4 linked regions of the Homo sapiens genome follow. The protein of the gene in region 2 purifies or fractionates together with the protein of the main gene of each other region. This does not show direct contact. Each region holds a gene or a part of one and is shown on either strand. Other genes may lie near its edges.

Evidence for each region.
Region 1: the proteins of INAVA (region 2) and SGF29 purify together in Homo sapiens (co-immunoprecipitation; 4 studies listed by BioGRID and IntAct, with this or other methods). This does not show direct contact.
Region 3: the proteins of INAVA (region 2) and ARHGEF7 purify together in Homo sapiens (co-immunoprecipitation; 3 studies listed by BioGRID and IntAct, with this or other methods). This does not show direct contact.
Region 4: the proteins of INAVA (region 2) and DCTN5 purify together in Homo sapiens (affinity purification with mass spectrometry; 2 studies listed by BioGRID and IntAct, with this or other methods). This does not show direct contact.

The regions. Positions count from the first base shown.
Region 1 is NC_000016.10:28,588,235-28,592,898, forward strand, and holds the end of SGF29 (SAGA-associated factor 29), read left to right. Parts: intron 1-865; coding exon 866-930; intron 931-1,861; coding exon 1,862-1,991; intron 1,992-2,061; coding exon 2,062-2,208; intron 2,209-2,396; coding exon 2,397-2,432; exon of another isoform or gene 2,433-2,437; intron 2,438-2,538; coding exon 2,539-2,701; intron 2,702-2,806; coding exon of another isoform or gene 2,807-2,818; exon of another isoform or gene 2,819-3,355; coding exon 3,356-3,472; 3' UTR 3,473-3,556; downstream 3,557-4,664. Other genes in the region: SULT1A2 (sulfotransferase 1A2), read right to left, coding at 3,794-3,906, 4,029-4,209. UniProt on the Homo sapiens protein: Chromatin reader component of some histone acetyltransferase (HAT) SAGA-type complexes like the TFTC-HAT, ATAC or STAGA complexes.
Region 2 is NC_000001.11:200,900,690-200,905,906, forward strand, and holds part of INAVA (innate immunity activator protein), read left to right. Parts: intron 1-247; coding exon 248-470; intron 471-5,217. UniProt on the Homo sapiens protein: Expressed in peripheral macrophages and intestinal myeloid-derived cells, is required for optimal PRR (pattern recognition receptor)-induced signaling, cytokine secretion, and bacterial clearance.
Region 3 is NC_000013.11:111,300,125-111,304,249, forward strand, and holds part of ARHGEF7 (rho guanine nucleotide exchange factor 7), read left to right. Parts: intron 1-623; coding exon 624-723; intron 724-1,353; coding exon 1,354-1,408; intron 1,409-2,866; coding exon 2,867-2,989; 3' UTR 2,990-4,125. UniProt on the Homo sapiens protein: Acts as a RAC1 guanine nucleotide exchange factor (GEF) and can induce membrane ruffling. Functions in cell migration, attachment and cell spreading. Promotes targeting of RAC1 to focal adhesions. May function as a positive regulator of apoptosis.
Region 4 is NC_000016.10:23,658,281-23,662,944, forward strand, and holds part of DCTN5 (dynactin subunit 5), read left to right. Parts: intron 1-226; coding exon 227-345; intron 346-2,889; coding exon 2,890-3,001; intron 3,002-4,664. UniProt on the Homo sapiens protein: Part of the dynactin complex that activates the molecular motor dynein for ultra-processive transport along microtubules.

The DNA of each region.
Region 1 (4,664 bases), on a different chromosome or scaffold from region 2:
CAGAGGCTTCCTGGGGCTTCAAGGCCATGCAGGGGTCTGTCTTTGGGTTCAGCCTTTCAGAAAGGATGAGGTCCTTCCACCCAGTTCTGCTCTGGGCCAGCACCTCTCCCCAGAGTCTCCCCTCCTTTTGTGTGACCCTCGGGCAGACCTGAGGCCCCCTCTCCTCATTTCAGGAGGTTCCTGCAGCCTTTCTGCAGGGTTTGCCGAAGGCAGTTTGCCTGTGTCCTTTCCTCTCTGGGATCCTGTGTTCTCTTAGTTTTTGGCATGCTGCTTTCTACCACCTTGTTTTTTATGTTCTTAAGACTAAAAGACACATACTGAAGATTTCCAGTTTTCTTTTTTTTTTTGAAATGGAGTTTCGTTCTTTTTGCCCAGGTTGGAGTGCAATGACGCGATCTCGGTTCACTGCAACCTCTGCCTCCCAGGTTCAAGCGATTCTCTTGCCTCAGCCTCCCAAGTAGGTGGGATTACAGTTAAAGACGCTCGCCACCACACCTGGCTAAGTTTTGTATTTTTAATACAGACGGGGTTTCACCATATTGGTCAGGCTGGTCTTGAACTCCTGACCTCAGGTGATCCACACTCCTCGGCCTCCCAAAGTGCTGGGATTACAGGCGTGAACCACCACACCCGGGCAGATTTCTAGTTTCACCATGAGGTTGGTCTGAATAACCCAGCCCACCTTGACCAGAACAGGAACCTGCACACACCTGTCATTCCACCTGCGCAGGAGGCTACTGTGAGAACCTCTGGAGTCCGGGACCAGCCTGGGCAATGTAGCTTGACCCAAAACAGAAAAAATGGAAGAGAAGTCTATGCTATGTACGTTAACCAAACCCTCTTTCTCCCTTCTCCCCGCCCTCAGCATCCTTCGGAAAGCTCTGGACAAGATCGCGGAAATCAAGTCTCTGTTGGAAGAGAGGCGGATTGGTGAGTGGGAGAGAACATGCTGGGAGGTCCTTTGCTAGGACAAGAGGAGAGGCCCTGCGGGCAGCAGTCACCCTCCTGTGGGGGCCTGTGGCCACCACCTGCTGGCATCCTCCCATGGAGGCTCTGGCAGACTGGCTCTACCACTGAGAAGGGACAGGAGGTCATTCCCAGTGCCCAGAGGCAGGGGTTTCCCAGTTCTCCCTCAGCAGCCAGAGATCATCCCGCCCTGGCCCCTCATCTCCTGCCCCTTCTGGGGCCTGGGCCAGTCGCCCCCTCCTCTGCCATGGCCCATGCCCATCTGTTGCCCTGGCTGGTTTCTGCAGAGCCACACGCTGTGTGTCGTAAAGCCAGCCTTCCAGACCCCCTCAGCCTGCATTAGGCTCTCCTACCTGTCTGCCCTCCCAACAATCCCATGGTGGGCAGAATCTTGGCATGTCAGTGTCCCCACACAGCCATGCTGGTTCTGTGTGAAGTCAAGTGGGGTGTCCAGCTGTGCCTGAGGAGGTTGAAGGTGCACATTTAATTTTTTTTTTGGTTTTTTTAACTTTCTGTTGAATTACAATGTATATTAATAGAAGAAAAGTACACATAAGTGCAGAGTTCAATGAAATAGTCACTAACTGAACACACTTCTGTAACCAGCATTCAGATCAGCAAACACAGCCTGAACAGCACCTTGGAACCCGCTTTCTTTCTTCTGGTTCCTCCCCCTGGATCCCCGCTGTGCTGCCATCTCACCCAACTGTAGTTAAACCCAGCAGCCCCTATAGGTGCTGACACATGGCCGATGGGGTCACAGTCCTGCTGGGCCCTCGGGCTCACTCGGGAACTGGGGGCTCCCAGGTGCTCCTTCAACAGCTCAGTGCAGCATGCTCGGGGGTCAAGGCCGGCACCTATCCCTGGGGCCTCAGGCCTCCCTTCCTTCCCACAGCGGCCAAGATTGCCGGTCTCTACAATGACTCGGAGCCACCCCGGAAGACCATGCGCAGAGGGGTGCTGATGACCCTGCTGCAGCAGTCGGCCATGACCCTGCCCCTGTGGATCGGGAAGCCTGGTGACAAGTGAGGGCAGCAGCTGCGAGGGAGGGGCTGGTGCCCAGGGGCTGGGACTGACCCTTTGTTCCACTCACAGGCCCCCACCCCTCTGTGGGGCCATCCCTGCCTCAGGAGACTACGTGGCCAGACCTGGAGACAAGGTGGCTGCCCGGGTGAAGGCCGTGGATGGGGACGAGCAGTGGATCCTGGCCGAGGTGGTCAGTTACAGCCATGCCACCAACAAGTGAGTGACACCAACCCTGGGGCTGCTCTCTGGTCACCGAACTTGCCTGGGCTACGGGAGAAAAGCTCTGCAGAGGGTGCTCCCCAGAGGCTGGTTGTGCAGGGAGCACCAGGTCCTCCCCCATCCTCACTCCCCAACAGGTACTGCGCCCCTGGCTGCATCCAGCCTTTTCCTCCTTTTGTCTGCAGGTATGAGGTAGATGACATCGATGAAGAAGGCAAAGAGTGAGTGTCCAGGCCAGGGCAGGGCATGGAGCCTGGGGGCAGCCTAACAGCTGAGAAGGAGCATCCCCACCCGGCCACAGGTTGATATAAGCCCCTCTTCCCCCAGGAGACACACCCTGAGCCGGCGCCGTGTCATCCCGCTGCCCCAGTGGAAGGCCAACCCGGAGACGGACCCTGAGGCCTTGTTCCAGAAGGAGCAGCTCGTGCTGGCCCTGTATCCCCAGACTACCTGCTTCTACCGCGCCCTGATCCATGCGCCCCCACAGCGGGTAAAGCAGCCTCCAGGGGAGAGGCCATGGGTGATGTCAGGAACAGGCTGATCAGACAGACGAGGGGTCCTCTCCCCACTCCTTCCCTTTGTCCTCATCTCACAGGCTCCAAGCTGACAGGACCCACCAGCTGCCCTCCCTCTTCCACTCCAGCCCCAAAGGCCACCATCCCTTTGCCAGCCCTGGCAGCCTTGGCAAGCCCCGAGTCAGTGGCTTCCAGCCCCAGGAGAACCAGCTCCGAGATGGGAAGCTCCTGCCCTGAGCCCTGGGCTCCTACCGCCTTGTGCTCTTGGTGACATGGGACACAAGCCACCTGAGGCCAGGATCCCTGCCTGCCACCCTCTGGGTTGCCCTCAGTCCTCTCAACAAAGAGTCCTTGAAAGGCAGCAGACCCTCCAGCTATGACCCCACTAGGAAGGGAGTCAGCACCCCTACTCCTCCCTGCCTATTCCCTGCCTTGGGTCTCCAGCCACTGAGAAAAGAGCTCTGTAGCAGCAGGGACTGGGCCAAGACTTCTTGACCCCAGAGTGAAGGATGTTAGGAGTGGCTGAGAGTCCACGGCCCAGAGCCTCCTGTGGTCTAGGCTGGGGGAAGGGGGTGCCTGTCCTGGCCTGGGGGTCTCTGAGCAGCCCCTCCTGTCTGCCTGCCCCACAGCCCCAGGATGACTACTCGGTCCTGTTTGAAGACACCTCCTATGCAGATGGCTATTCCCCTCCCCTCAATGTGGCTCAGAGATACGTGGTGGCTTGTAAGGAACCCAAGAAAAAGTGATGCCGCCTGGCAGACTCGCCATCCCCCAACGACACAGGGCAGGACAGCAGAGGACGTGCTGGGATTAAACACATTCCCCCTCTACTCGTCTCCTGGGTTTTACTTCTCCAGACCCTCTCCCCTCTCCAAACAGGGCAAGTTGAGGAGCTGGAGCGGGGAGGTGGCCGTATTTGGCCCCAGTGGGCGATCACTCTTTCAGCTCAGGGTTTCTCTTGGCTTGGAATAGAGACTCTGCATTGAACACAAATCATACTTTATTCTGGAGCCTCTTGGTCAGGCTTGATTCGCACACTCCCTCTGCAGTGACTCCAGGAACCCCTCTCACAGCTCAGAGCGGAAGCTGAGGCTGCAGCCTGCCATCTTCTTCGCATAGTCCGCATCGAAGCGCTCATTCTGCGCCACGGTGAAGGTGGTCTTCCAGTCCCCAGCCATGCCTGGGGGAGGAAGGCAGGGAGCAAAGCTGGAGTCTCATCCCAGGGGAGGCCCCGAGTGCCTATGGGGAGGCTCCAGCTGCTGCTCCCACCTGCTCCAAACCCCCGTGCTGGCCGGCACCTACCTTTCCTCATGAAGGGGGAGATGCTGTGGTCCATGAACTCCCGGCGGACGGTGGTGTAGTTGGTCATAGGGTTCTTCTTCATCTCCTTGAACGACGTGTGCTCAACCATGAGGTCCACAGTCTCCTCTGGCAGGGAGCGCCCCACAAACTCCAGGATCTTTTGAATCTCCCTTTTGGGGTTCTGAGCAGCAGAGGGCTCCTCAGTGGAGGCTTGGATTGCTGATTCAGGAAAATAAAAGGGGTCCACTTCTCTAACCTCAGAGGGGAACTGGCCACTTCCACTTCAAAACCCATAGAGCCAGCTCCTCGACCCCTGGGACCCCAGTCCCTGGGGCAAAATGAATTGCTGTCTGCCCTGTGATCCCATCATGAGCTGGGCTTGGCTCCTATGGGTAAGGACTGGGATGGTCTTCTTCCGTGCCTGTGGCCCTGGGTGGCATAACCATTGGCAGGGAGAAGCAATTGGAATAGATAGCTGATCTGTGGCAAGGGGCCGTGGTTCAGGCGTGTAATTCCCAAGACTTTGGGAGGCTGAGGCAGGCGGATCACCTGAGCTCAGGAGATGGAGACCAACCTGGCCAACATGGCACAACACAAAAATTAGCCAGGCATGGTAGTGTGCATCTGTAATCTCAG
Region 2 (5,217 bases):
CCGGTTCAGCAGGTGGGCTGGTGGGTGGGTGCCCATGCCAGCTTTTCAGGCTGACAAGTTTGCTTTTCGGCTCCTCCCACTCCTTCACCCTCTGCTCCACGTCCGTCCATTGGTGCTGCTGTCTGCCTCTCTTCTGTCCTCAGGGCTTAGGACTGGGACCTAGAGCACTGTGTCAGGGCTGCTGTCCACCCTCTGGGCCCCCAATCTCCCTGCCTCTCTCTAGCCTCACTCCTGCCCCCTCTCTCAGGACCCCCTAAGCAGCCTGGAGCGCCAGCTGGCCCTGCAGCTGCAGATCACAGAGGCAGCCCGTCGGCTGTGCCTGGAGGAGAACCTCAGCAGGCAGGCTCGGCGGCAGCGGAAGCACTCCATGCTGCAGGAGGAGAAGAAGCTGCAGGAGCTCCAGCGCTGCCTGGTCGAGCGGCGGCGCAATAGCGAGCCACCTCCGGCTGCTGCTCTCCCCCTGGGCCGAGGTGAGCCGGCTGCCCTGAGGGGGGCCATGCTCCTTAAATGAGCTTTTGAGGGATGGTGGGCGCACAGCCCCGTGCCACTGCCTTTGCATTTGGCTCCAGCTGGGTAAAGCTGATTCTTGGGTTCAGCTCCACCCCATCCTGATTCTCTCCAACTCCAGCAAGGCTTCCCCATCCTGTGAGGTCTTCTTCTCCGTCTCCTTAGAAAACACCCTACTCTCTCCTTCCGTATCCTCCTCAAAATACACTACCTTCAAGAGACTTCCTACACAGAGATATTTCTCAGCTGACCCTGAGCTGAATCCAAGGTGTATTCAACTGGGTAGCCCAGGCTGGCCCCGCTGCCCTCCAGGCCCACAGGGTGATGGCATCTCTGGGTCAGGGTAGTGTGAGGCTCCCGTGAGCCCAAGGCTCTGAGTTGATGTGTAGTCCCCTGGCCTGAGTTAGGCAGCAAAGGGTTTGACGATTGCTATGTGTTACTGATCACTGAATTGTTTCAGGGGCCCACAGCTACTTAGGAGATGTTCAGGTTGAAATCCAGCAGGACTGGTGCCACACCCCACAGCCCCTTAAGTATCTACAACCACCCTGGTCAAGGGTGGGATCCTTCCATGTCTGTTCTCTGCCCTCCTTGTGTCTGTAGTTCAATCCCTGAGCTCCTTGGCCCAGAGACTAGTGGCCGTGGGGGCACCTAGTGAGTTGTTGATGCCCAGGTGCTGCCACATCACATCAGTGTGTCCACCACAGGTTAGCTTCCAACAGGTGGTTCTGAGCCCTTAGGTGTGACTGTTTTCCTTTGTCCTGACCCAAGGCCAGCCTGTCAGGTCAGGACTTGCATCTCTCCATTCCAAACCCCACCGCAGCAGGCCCATGACTCAGCTCTGCCCCCCGTCTCTCACATGGGACCCAGACCTCCCTGGCTGCCTCAGAGGGAACCGGGAGGGAATGAGGCCGTGGCCCTGCAAAAAAAAATCCAGAATTGGATTCAGAGGTCTCGGCCTTCATTCACATTCTCAGGCTCCCATCCCTGCATATCGTGTTGGCTTTTTGCCAAGACTACTCCTCAGCCTGGGAGCAGTCATGGGGAAGCTGGAAAGCCCTTGCTAGTCCCTGTGCCCTGCAGCCTATGCCTCAGGCAGGGAGTTATCTCAGCACAGGTCTCAGAAGTCCCTGCTCCTATCCATGGCTTTTAATTTAGGGTAGAAAGTGCATGACCAGACACCACCCAGGTCACCTCCCGCAGCCAAGAGTAGGTGATAAAGGAGGAGGTGCCTCCATGTGACAGTTAACCCAGTAAACTCAGAAGACAGTGGGGCTGACCCAGGGAAAATGGCCAGACCTCTGTCCGGTTCCAGTGGTTCTGGCTTGGCCGCAGAACAACACTCCCAGTCTCTGAGGCTCTAATGGAAGACAAGTTCTACAACCTTACTCCACTCTCAACAGGGATCCCAGGACTTGACAGCAACCTTGAAAGGTAGCTGCTGAATTGGACATGGAAGCCCCTAAGGGCCAACTTGCTCTGTGCCTGCAGGGAGAGGTCAGGGTGGTGAGATATGCCCGTTGGTTGCAGCGCCTCCTGCTCCCCGGTCCAGCCTCACACTGCTCAGCAGCCTCCCCTGCCCACCGGGGCTGCCATTGCTGGGAGCTTCTGCCCATGATGGGTGGCAGGGGAGTGTCACCCTGATGCTGCCATTGTGACCCATAATGCTTCTTGTTGGGAGTCGGGAGCAGGCCAGGACTGGCCTGGGGCTCTGTGGAAGGCAGGAGGATGAGGTTCTGAAACCTTGGAGCCCTCAGTACAGGTGAAGACAGAGCTGTGGAGAGGAGACAACTGGTGTAGTTGCTGACTTTCCCACATCAGGAATCAAGATCCCACTGGCCAACTTCAGGCCCTGGGATCTAAAGTCCTGTTGTGAGAGCACAGAAGGGATCAGTTCTAGACAAGTAATTTCTGTTTTGTGGCTCCTCTGCCCAGCCGAGCCCTCCTAGAAAGGAGGAAGTAAAGCAGAATTATTAGTAGCTGAGGTGTTTTGAATTAAAAAGGGAAGGCCGGACACTGTGGCTCATGCCTGTAATCCCAATACTTTTGGAAGCCAAGGTGGGCGGATCATGAGGTTAGGAGTTCAAGACCAGCCTGGCCAACATAGTGAAACCCCATCTCTACTAAAAATACAAAAATTAGCCAGACATGGTGGTGCATGTCTGTAGTCCCAGCTACTCGGGAGGCTGAGCCAGGAGAATCCCTTGAACCTGGGAGGTGGAGCCCAGGATCAAGGGAGCCGAGATCGTGCCACTGCACTCCAGCCTGGCAACAGAGTGAGACTTTGTCTCAAAAACAAAAAACAAAACAAAACAAAAAAACAGGAGGCCAGGTGCAGTGGCTCACACCTGTAATCCCAGCACTTTGGGAGGCCGAGGCGGGTGGATCACTTGAGGTCGGGAGTTCAAGACCAGTCTGACCAACATGGAGAAACCCCATCTCTACTAAAAATACAAAATTAGCCAGGCATGGTGGCGCATGCCTGTAATCCCAGCTACTCGGGAGGCTAAGGCAGGATAATCACTTGAACCCAGGAGGCGGAGGTTGCGGTGAGCCGAGATTGCACCATTGCACTCCAGCCTGGTGACAAGAGCGAAACTCTGTCTCAAAAAAAAAAAAAAAAAAAAGGGAAAAAAGCAAACAACCCAAAAACCGAAATAAAAAACCACCCTGCCCCCTTGGGCTCCATACAAGGGTAATTTAGTTTGGGAAAGTAACTGCTAGGTGAGAGTCATCAGCCATACTTTGCAGTGGCAGGGAGCAGTCAGGTGTTGAGCTCATTTACTAGAGTGAACCGCATGAGGGCCACCCAGCACCCACCTGTGCAATGTAATAGGCACTCTGGATGCATCTGTTGATCAACAACACCAGCCATTAGCCACATCCTCATAACATTTTTTTTTTTTTTTTGAGACGGAGTCTTGCTCTCTCATCCAGGCTGGAGTGCAGTGGAGCCATCTCAGCTCACTGCAACCTCCACCTACCGGGTTTAAGCGATTCTCCTGCCTCAGCCTCCTGAGTAGCTGGGACTGCAGATGCGTGCTGCCACGCCCAGCTAATTTTTGTATTTTTAGTAGAGATGGGGTTTCACCAAATTGTCCAAGCTAGTCTCGAACTCCTGACCTCAAGGGATCCTCCCGCCTTGGCCTCCCAAGTGGTGGGATTACAGGCGTGAGCCACTGCGCCTGGCCGCTCATAGCATTTCTGAGATGGTGGAAGTGTTCTGTATCTGTGCTGTCCAATACAGTAGCCACTCGCTGCATGTGGCTATGGAGCATTTGAACTGTGCCTAGTGTGACTGAGGAACTGACTTTATTTAGTTTTAATGAAAATAGCCACATGCGGCTAGTGGCAACTGTGTTGGACAGCATAGCCTTGGGGGAAGCTCAGCATTTGTGAGTAAAATCTCCACCGTTACCCCTCTGTCTGGGGTGTCCTGCGATGCTGCTGCGGGGCAGGGGAACGCTGAGCTAGGGCAGGGTTGGGACAGTTGCTGAGATAGTGAGCAGCTCTCAGAAACCTGAATCTTTTTTTTTTTTTTTCCAATCTTTTTAGAGACAGGGTCTTGTTCTGTTGCTCAGGCTGGAGTGCAGTAGTGTGATCATACCTCACTGCAGCCTTGAACTCCTGGGCTCAAGTGATCTTCCTTCCTCAGCCTCTAGTAGCTGGGACTACAGTCATGTGCCACCACACCCAGCAAATTAAAACAAAACAAAACAAAAAAACTATTTTAGAGATGGGATCTTGCTATATTGCCCAGGCTGGTCTCAAACTCCTGGTCTTAAGCAAACCTCCTGCCTCAGCCTCTGGAGTAACTAAGATTATAGGTGTGCCTGGCCCAATGAAAATCTTTATTCCTAAGGTTTTTATAAAAGATCAAAGGCAGGAGACCAGAATTCAGTAAGAGGGGGTCTCTTTAATTGAACCCTAAAGCAAAGGCTACTTGTGAGCCAAGCAAAGCATGGGCTGGCTGGCTACTCAGGAGTCAAGCCCAGCTCCTGGTACCGTATGTCCTAGAAATCTACTGCCTGCTCTGGGTAAAGATTTTTTCATTAAATTGCGGAGCAGGCTGAGCATGTTGGCTCAAGCTTGTAATCCCAGCACTTTGGGAGGCCAAGGCAGGAGGATCTCTTGGGCCCAGGAGTATGAGACCTGCCTGGACCACACAGGGAGACCCTGTCTCTACAAATAACTAAAATAAAAAAATTGGATAGGCATGGTTGTGGACACCTATAGTCCCAGCTACTCAGGAGTCTGAGGTGGGAGATTGATTGAGCTCAGGAGGTCAAGGCTGCAGTGAGCTGTGATCGGGCCACTGCACTCCAGCCTAGGCAACATTGTAACAACCCATCTTTAAAAAGATGGGTTAAACCTTTGTGGAGCAAAGGTTAACAAACTTTTCCATAAAGAGCCAGACAGTACATATTTTAGTCTTTGTAGGCTCTTTGGTCTTTATCACAACTGTTCAACTCTGCTACTTCAGTGCTAAAACAGCCAGACATTACATAAACAAATTCATAGCCGTGTTCCAATAAACATTTATTTACAAAAGCAGCTATTGAACTGGATTTGACCCCTGGGCCATAGTTTGCTAACCTCTGTTGTAAGGGATTTCAAGATGGTTGGAACTTTTTACTTTTTTTGAAACTTCCTGGGCAATGCCCATGCATTTGAGATGCAAGCTCACAGGGGAGAGCCCATAAAGGGTTG
Region 3 (4,125 bases), on a different chromosome or scaffold from region 2:
ATATAAGCTCTTGTGTAGGTGTTGGTTAAATGACAGAAATGTTCTGACATTGTGAGCAGTTTGCTTTCATTTAGAAAAATGTTTATATTTTAGGAAATATAAAGTTTTCATAAAGGACCAAATAATGTTATTTTTTCTAAACCATGTGCTATGATGCTGTAATATCTTGATTATTAAATGTTGCTGTAGAGTAAAATGTTTTTATTGCCAGATCTTTGATGTATAAACACTCACTGTATATGTTCTGATTGGTCTCATATGTCTTTGCTGAAACTCTTGGAATAATGGCTCAAAATGGGATGAATATCCAGAGCAGTACAGTCACAACCTTTAACTTCCTCCCTGTTGAAAATGCTGGGGTTTCAACAATCCGTAATTCCGATTTGAAAAGGGCTACAGTTTCCTTCCCTCTCTGGCTTTGGTCATGAGGAGGCCTGGGCTCGGTAGACAGAGGTGAAGAGAACTGGTAAAAGATGCCCTCCTCTAGCTTGCCTGGATGAACGTTTTTAAATGCATAATTGCTAGAACTTAATATTTAAGTGACATGGTATAGTCAAGTTGTTTTTCTTCATTCTGCCATGGTATTCGCCTGAGGTTTATTTATTATTTTTTCATGATCCTAGGTTCACGCAAAGAATCTGCTCCACAAGTTTTGCTTCCAGAAGAAGAGAAAATTATAGTGGAAGAAACTAAAAGTAATGGTCAGACAGTGATAGAAGAAAAGTAAGATGTCTTCCGGTATTCTAAAGCAGATGTTTGACCTCTGCGGTGGGGTAGTAGAGTCCAGACAACTCCCTGAGGGCGGGGGTATGGCTTCAGAAGCTTCACTTTTTTTTTTTTTGAGACGGAGTGTCACTCTTGTCACCCAGGCTGGAGTGCAATGGTGCGATCTCAGCTCACTGCAACCTCCACCTTCCGGGTTCAAGCGGTTCTCCTGCCTCAGCCTCCCGAGTAGCTGGGATTACAGGCCTGTGCCACCACGCCTGGCTAATTTTTGTATTTTTAGTAGAAACGAGTTTTCACCCTGTTGGCCAGGCTGGTCTCAAACTCCTGACCTCAGGTGATCTGCCCGCCTCGGCCTCCCAAAATGCTGGGATTACAGGTGTGAGCCACTGTGCCTGGCCAGAGCTTCACTTTTAAAATGTCTTCATAGGCTGAAGTTGCCCTTGACTAGGCTTGAACCTGCCATGCACAGAGGTTGGCAGTTTTTAGTTGTGAATGTAGACAGTACATGGGTAAGGCAGAGCAGCTCCGTGTCCTCCTCTCAGCATCGTAGTGTCTCCTGGTAAGTTTTCGTGTGTCCTCTCCATGCCTCACCTTGTTCATGTGTGTGTGTTCTGTTTCCTGTTTCAGGAGTCTTGTGGATACCGTATATGCATTAAAGGATGAAGTTCAAGAATTAAGACAGGTACGTCATAATCCATCTTTAAATCTTTTTTTTCTTTTCAAATGGGAGAAAAGAAGAAAATTACATTAAAAATAAGCTGGCTGGGTACGGTGGCTCACACCTATAATCCCAGCACTTTAGAAGGCCGAGGTGGACAGATCACCTGAGGTCAGGAGTTCAAGACCAACCTCACCAACATGGCAAAAACCCATCTCTACTGAAAATACGAAAATTAGCTGGGCATAGCGGCAGGTGCCTGTAACCCAGCTACTTGGGAGGCTGAGGCAGGAGAATTGCTTGAACCTAGGAGGCGGAGGTTGCTGTGAGCCGAGATTGTGCCACTGCACTCCAGTCTGAGCCACAGAGCAAGACTCCGTCTCAAATAAAAATAAAAAGCTGATTGTCCATAAGCAAAAAACTAAAAGGAGGTCATGTCTTTGAGAAGTCCAGCAGATAAAATAATTGGTTGTCTCTAAAGTGACTTGTTTAAACTCTTTTTTTTTTCTTAACAATACTGATTTTGATGTCATAAAACATCGCAAATTCTGTTGGAAGAATAATTTAAAATATCGAAAGTTCTGTCTGGTGACAAATCCTGCGAGGCGCCCCTGAGATTAGCCTCTGCCACTGCATGGTCCTTGGCTCCCGAAGCCAGGTTAGCGAGCCAGAAGTGGCGACTAACCAAGGGTGTTCTGGGTATTGCACGGAATGTGAGTATGAGCAGCTTTGGTCCTCTGCCCAGCTAGGCGAGGGAAGGTTGGGGTGTTCATTGCACGGAATGTGAGTACGAGCGGCTTTGGTCCTCTGCCCAGCTAGGTGAGGGAAGGTTGGGGTGTTCTTTTGGCCGAGGAACAGCCTGAGAAGAGTTGTGGTCTGGGATAGAGAGCTGAGAGCAGGTTGCTGTGTGGAACTGGACATGTGCTGTCATTCTAAGCAGTGTCCGCAGGTCTTCCAGGTACACCTTTGCCTGGCTGGCAGGCTTCCATGTTCACGCTTTGCCCCTACCGGCAGCAGGCATCTGTTTGTGCATGCCTCCTACGTCCGAGACATGCCTGGGTTCAGCTGCACAGAGCAGGTGCTCGCCCACTTGCTCCTGCACCTGTCAGTGGCTGTTACTTCCAGTCCTTTCTGTAACTCTGGAAGGTGGTTATAAATGGACAAAAAGGCTGGATAGGAGCTGTCTCGTCCGCAGTTTCCAGCTATTTTCTTACGGTATGTTCTATAGAGATTCATTCATGGACTTAATAAGAGCCATTAGGACCATTTCCATCCCGGGAACAGCAGCACAGTCAGGAGCACCGCTGCCACCCTGTCCAGGTGTTTGACCTTCGTGGATCCCCACGACCTCAGAGCCCATAGGCAGCTCACGTGGGATTTCATGAATCGAGGCCTTAGCTCCTCAAGGATACACATTTGGGGAAAGGAAGCCCTACGCGATGCCAAAGATAGTGAACACCCTGTGGTCTGCTTAATTTACAGGACAACAAAAAGATGAAGAAATCTCTAGAGGAAGAACAGAGAGCCCGCAAAGACCTGGAGAAGCTGGTGAGGAAAGTCCTGAAGAACATGAATGATCCTGCCTGGGATGAGACCAATCTATAAGGGATGTCCTCAGTTCTTTCTGTTGAAGACCAGTTCTGAGGTGAAGCTGGGCACCCCTGACCCAAGTCGGGGTGCACTCAGGACCACAGGGCAGGGCTGGGTGGGGCGCCACCTTGCTCTCTGTATATAGAAAAGCTGGAGCTTATTCTGCGAATGGAGACGATCAAACCATGACTGATGAATCCAGACAGGAGGGATTGACTCTGAGGACCTGAGCTACATCAATCCACTCTGTGAACATCTCAGTTACCTCATTCTGCAATAAGTTCAGTGACTGACTAAAAGTCTTGTTTTTCCAGACTTTGAATTGAATATATAAATATTATATATACATGTTTCTTGTAAATATCCCATTTTGAATGCATACCTGTGGTGGTTCTGTCCGGGCTAATCCCCATGCTAGAATGTCCTTTCCAGCTACGTGAATAAGAAGTCCCATGCCCGCATCCACCGGAAGCAGAAGCCTGGTGGATGCCTGGTTCGTTCCGCAGCACCAGGGCCTCCACCGTGCTGTGGCAGCACCCCCCATGTCGGTATTTCTAAATAACCTTATTTATACCTGCAGAGATACACTTCAGTCCCATTCAGAAGTCTTCTCTTAAAGCAGCATTACAGTCCCAGACCTGCGGGTTTCTGAGGGCAACTTGCTGGCTGACAGACTCAGTCTTGACCTCAAGGAAGGCCCATACGGCACTGCCGCATCCACCTAGAGGTGTTTGCTCTTGTCCGCTGTCTGAGTACTGTGATTCTCAGATGAGTTTGCTGCGTTTTGGGAGGACACAGACGGTTCTGTATAGGCTAGTTCAGTAACAACAAAATACACTGTTTTGTCTTCCCTCAAAGAGAGATCTTACTAGAACCTGTAAATAGAATGTATTATTTATTATAAGTCACTGCAGCTGATGAAAACAGATGGAGGCCATGCTGCAGGCTGATACTGATGGGTGGAGTTTTGTCATCAGGCCAGCCTCATCCCGAGGTCTCCTCCACCATTGGCCGTAGCCAGCAGGCTTCAGTGCTCACCGAAAGTAAAATCCCCTCCTTCAGCAAGAATAAAGCAATATACACCTTAGGTTCCACTAAGTAACATAGGCATAAGCAGGGAACGTTTCCCCCACTGTGTTCCAGTGCAGAGG
Region 4 (4,664 bases), on a different chromosome or scaffold from region 2:
ATTAAGGGCAAAGCTTGTGATGTACTAGGAACATCACTAACTGCAGTCACTGTCATGAGGGCAGTTCTCTTTTTACCTTACAATTTATTCCTTTTGGCGGAACATTTGAAACATTCTGTCAGAGTGGATTGTAACATAACTCAGAATCAGTATCTCGTTATCTACTCTTTTTTTGTTACGTCTTAGGCTATGTTGCTAATTTTTTAAAATTTGCTTCGTCTTACAGACCATTGTGATGAATGACTGTATTATCCGAGGGGATCTGGCAAATGTAAGAGTTGGACGTCATTGTGTTGTGAAAAGTCGTAGTGTCATAAGGCCACCATTCAAGAAGTTCAGCAAAGGGTATGTAATTTAATTACTTTGTTCAAGTCTTGGGCAAGAAGCTGCCACTGGTGGTGTGGTCCATGTGTTGAGTTGTGGTATAATGACTAGGTCTGTCCTGTTTGAAGCACTGAGTAAGAGTTCACCATAATGAACACAACTCTGCTGGTGGTTGTCTCAGTCTGGTTGATGATTGGTTGCTACAAACAGAATCCGCTTACACACTGGCAAAAGCAAAGGATTTCTGATCAAACAGACTGGCGTATATAATGGAACCTAAGAGGAGGAAAAGGAGCAAGCCAGGCCTCACAAGGGACCGGAACCTGGAATTGGACAGCTAGCCGGAATCAAGACTGTTTTGTCTACCTATCCCTCTCTGTATCTGAGACTGTATTTTTTCTTCTATACTGCCCTTCTCTCTGCATTTCTACTTGCCTTTTCTCTCTCACAGATACCTGCCCCATTTGTTCATGGAGCCTACCTTGCTGACTCAGCCTCTAATTTATATCATTTCTCCATTTAGGCTTCCAGCAGACACCAACTAGAGATCTTATGTGTTACTTCCAAACTCTTGAGAGAGAGAATCTGATTGACTCATCTTAAGTATCCCTGATCTGAACGACTTTGACCCAAAGGGCAGAGTCAAGTCAGGTCCACTGATCCTTCAGTGGGAATAAAGACTGTCCAAGAAAGGCCAGGGACAGAGCAGGCAAACTGACCACCATAGCTGATAATGGTGCTAAAGTATTCTCTTTGCCTCTTTGCTTCTCTCCTCCTTGACTAATTGCCCTCCTGGCACCCATCTGCATTTCATCCAATAAGTCAGCAAGCATTTATTGAGCACCTTCCTCATGCCTGCAGCTGGGTTGTAAGCTGAGAATATATAAAGATAGATAAAATAAAATTCCTGCCTCAAGGTTCCCAAAGTCTAGTTGTAGAAGCAATTAGCATAATCAGATAGCGACATATGACAGCTACTATATGATGTGATACACCTGTCACAGAGGTATGACCATGGTTAGGAAGGAACAGAGAAGGGAGCAATTAACTCAAACTAATGATAATACCCAGAAGTATATCATGCAGAAATAATCCCACATTTCCAATAATGATGTTGGATTCCAGGCTTTCCATGACATACAAGAACTGGATCGGAGAATCATTATAAAACATTCACATGATTAGCTTTGAAGGCTACTAGGGGAAAACCAGAAAACCTCCTGGTACCCTATTATGGTTTTATACAGTGTGACTGATACACTACTAGAAATGTTGATTAACAGCATTGTTGGGTTGGATATGGCACAGGAAAAGCACCAAGAGTGAACAAGGGGTTTATTGCTGAATGAAGGGATGTGTAAATAGGAATAGTACATGTGAGAAATGCTGAAAATATGAAAGTGTAAATAGCAAAACATGAATAGAAGCTAAATGTGGATTTTTTTCTACCTGCATGTCATACCAGAACCAGATAATACTATCGAACTTGGAATCTTAAATTTAAAATTAAAGAACTGTCAGTACTGCTACAGACTGTGATGAGATCAGGGAATGCATTGCTGCACAAGAGGTACAGACCAAAAATACTAGTGGTTAAGGAAGATTTAAACAAATTATAGGTTCGTAGAGGACAGGTATCATCTCTGAAAAAATATTCTGGACAGAATAGAACAGAATTGGAATTCTTCTATACTGCCCTTCTCTCTGCATTTCTACTTCCCTTTTCTCTAGTGAGCATCTAGCACTTTATATTCATTCCAGTCCAAATATTTTACATCCCAAGGTATAGAAATTACATATAAATGTGATCACAGAACCACTGTCAGTGACATTTGAGGAACCCTAGAGAACGGGATGGGAATGATGTCAGATATCTGGAGAAAGCCTGCTGACTCCTACTCAAAGTCAATTAAGTTTTTCCTAAATCCATGGACTAGGTAAGGTCTCCTTGTTATATATGCTCATAACTTGATATTGTGTTTCTGTAGCCCTTATCACAGTTGTCACTACTTACTATTTAATCTCATTTCTTCTCTTGATTGCAAGCTGCTCGTGGACAGTGTTCTCTCTCTTTTGTCATTATTATAGCCCTAATTTCTAGCATTGAGTCTGGCACATAGTAGTCACTCACTGAAGTCTGTGAATGAATAAATTTTTAGAATGCTGAATGTGGAAATTATAACTCATGAGCCTACTGTCAATCCCCTGGAACATTATAGGGCAGGTTACTAAAAATGTGATCTGTGAGCATTTTCAAAGGAAGTGGGAATGAACAAACGTTCATTGATTTTTATTTGGTACCTGCTCTTTTAGCTTTGAAGATCTTGCCCCTCCTGCCTTGGTTTTTCCTTTCATATTTCTTTGGTGTACTATTGCAATTTTGAACTAGTAATCATATTCATTTTCTTCAATATTGTATAATTTTTCTAGCCTGAGGTTTCTTTCCTTGCTGGGAACAGTCTTGCTAAGATGATAAAGTTCAAATTATGATCTGTAGTTCTATAAACCTTGACCCAAAGTACATCATCTTGACCTTTCTGTGTTCATCTTCTTTTCCTCTTCTAGTGTTGCATTCTTTCCTTTACATATTGGAGACCATGTCTTTATTGAGGAAGATTGTGTGGTCAACGCAGCACAGATTGGTTCCTATGTTCATGTTGGGAAGAACTGTGTGATTGTGAGTATGATGACTTGGCTGGCAAAGCAGCTTCACTTTCCCTTCAGCTCCCATCCCTCACTTCGGTGGGACCCTGTTTCTGTGACTAAGCAGGGTAGCAGTGGTTTCCAGTCTTCCCAGAGTTGGATTTTTCTTGACAGATATGGAATTTTTTCAGCTGGGTGCGGTGGCTCATGCCTGTAATCCCAGCTTTTTGGGAGGTTGAAGTGGGCAGATCACTTGAGGTCAGGAGTTTGAGACCAGTCTGGCCAACATGGCAAAACCCTGTCTCTACAAAAATACAAAAATTAGCTGGGCATGGTGGCGCATGCCTGTAGTCCCAGCTACTCGGGAGGCTGAGGCAGGAAAATCACTTGAACCCAGGAGGCGGAGGTTGCAATGAGCCAAGATTGCACCACTGCTTTCCAGTCTGGGCAACAAAACGAGACACTGTCTTATAAATAAATAAATAAATAAATAAATAAATAAATAAAAAGATTTGGAATATTTTCTAGACATTAATACGGGCAAGCGTTTATCAAGTCTCCTCTATATGATGTTAAACTCTTTCCTTTGATGATTTCATTTAATCCTTACAACCATTCAGATGTGTTAGGTGTTATCCCTATTTGCAGATGAGAAGACTGAGGACCTTAAATATTAAGGGATTTGGGGCCAGGTGTGGTGACTGTAGCCTATAATCCCAGCACTTTGCGAGGCCAAGGCAGGAGGATCCCTTGAGCCCAGGAGTTCAAGACCAGCCTGGGCAACAAAGCAAGACCCTTTCTCTTAAAAAAAAAAAAAACCCAAAAGTTAAGGGATTTGATAGGGCTAGAAAGCAGTAGACCTGGGATTTAAACCCAGGCAATATGATTATTAGCCATGCTGCTATATGGCCTACTTATTGCCTTACTTCACGGAGCTTACAGTCTAATGGGAGTAAGGAAATCTGAAGGGTGAGTTGAAACTGGGGGAAGACAGGCATTTCAGGAAAGAGATTCACATGCGTAAGGAAGGGTTCAAGTCATCAAAGGGCATTTACATGTAATTCAGGGTGCAAGCGGGCCCCTTGCTCAGCAGAATCTGTAGGACCCTGGTCCATTGGAGCCTAGGAATAGGTTGATTTAACCCAACCAAGGCTTAACAAGGTTGGATTTCCTGTGATTTCTTAGATGATGAGCTTGATTTCAGTTGGGATTTATGAGAACCATGTTTAGGGAAAGTGTTTTCTGCATTTTAGATTTGTACTCCAGACTAGATTCTAGGAAAAGCCAAGACTCTGTTTCTTTAATGACCATTCCCGTTAATATGGAGCCAGCTCTCTGCCCTGGATAAGACTCAGACCCTGAAATATCAAAAAACTTGCAGAAACCAAACAGTTCACATTCCAGGAGCTATGAGGGTACAGCAAAGGTGGACAGAAAGTCTTTGGGACAAGGGGAAAGTTAGTAAAGTTCATCTCTCCCCTCACCCTAATTGCTTGACAAAAGCTAGCCTTCCAGCTGGGGGTTTCTGATATTTTCCTTAGCAAAGTGAAGATATCACCCCAGTAGCCTAGTCATATAACCCTGTCGTTTATCCTCAGAGCGAAATGTCTGAAAGGTTGAATCCAAATTCTATTCCCAGTGCTTAGGAAATTCTAATCCTATTGTCAGGTGCTCTTGTTTTTATGCCACTTTTTAAT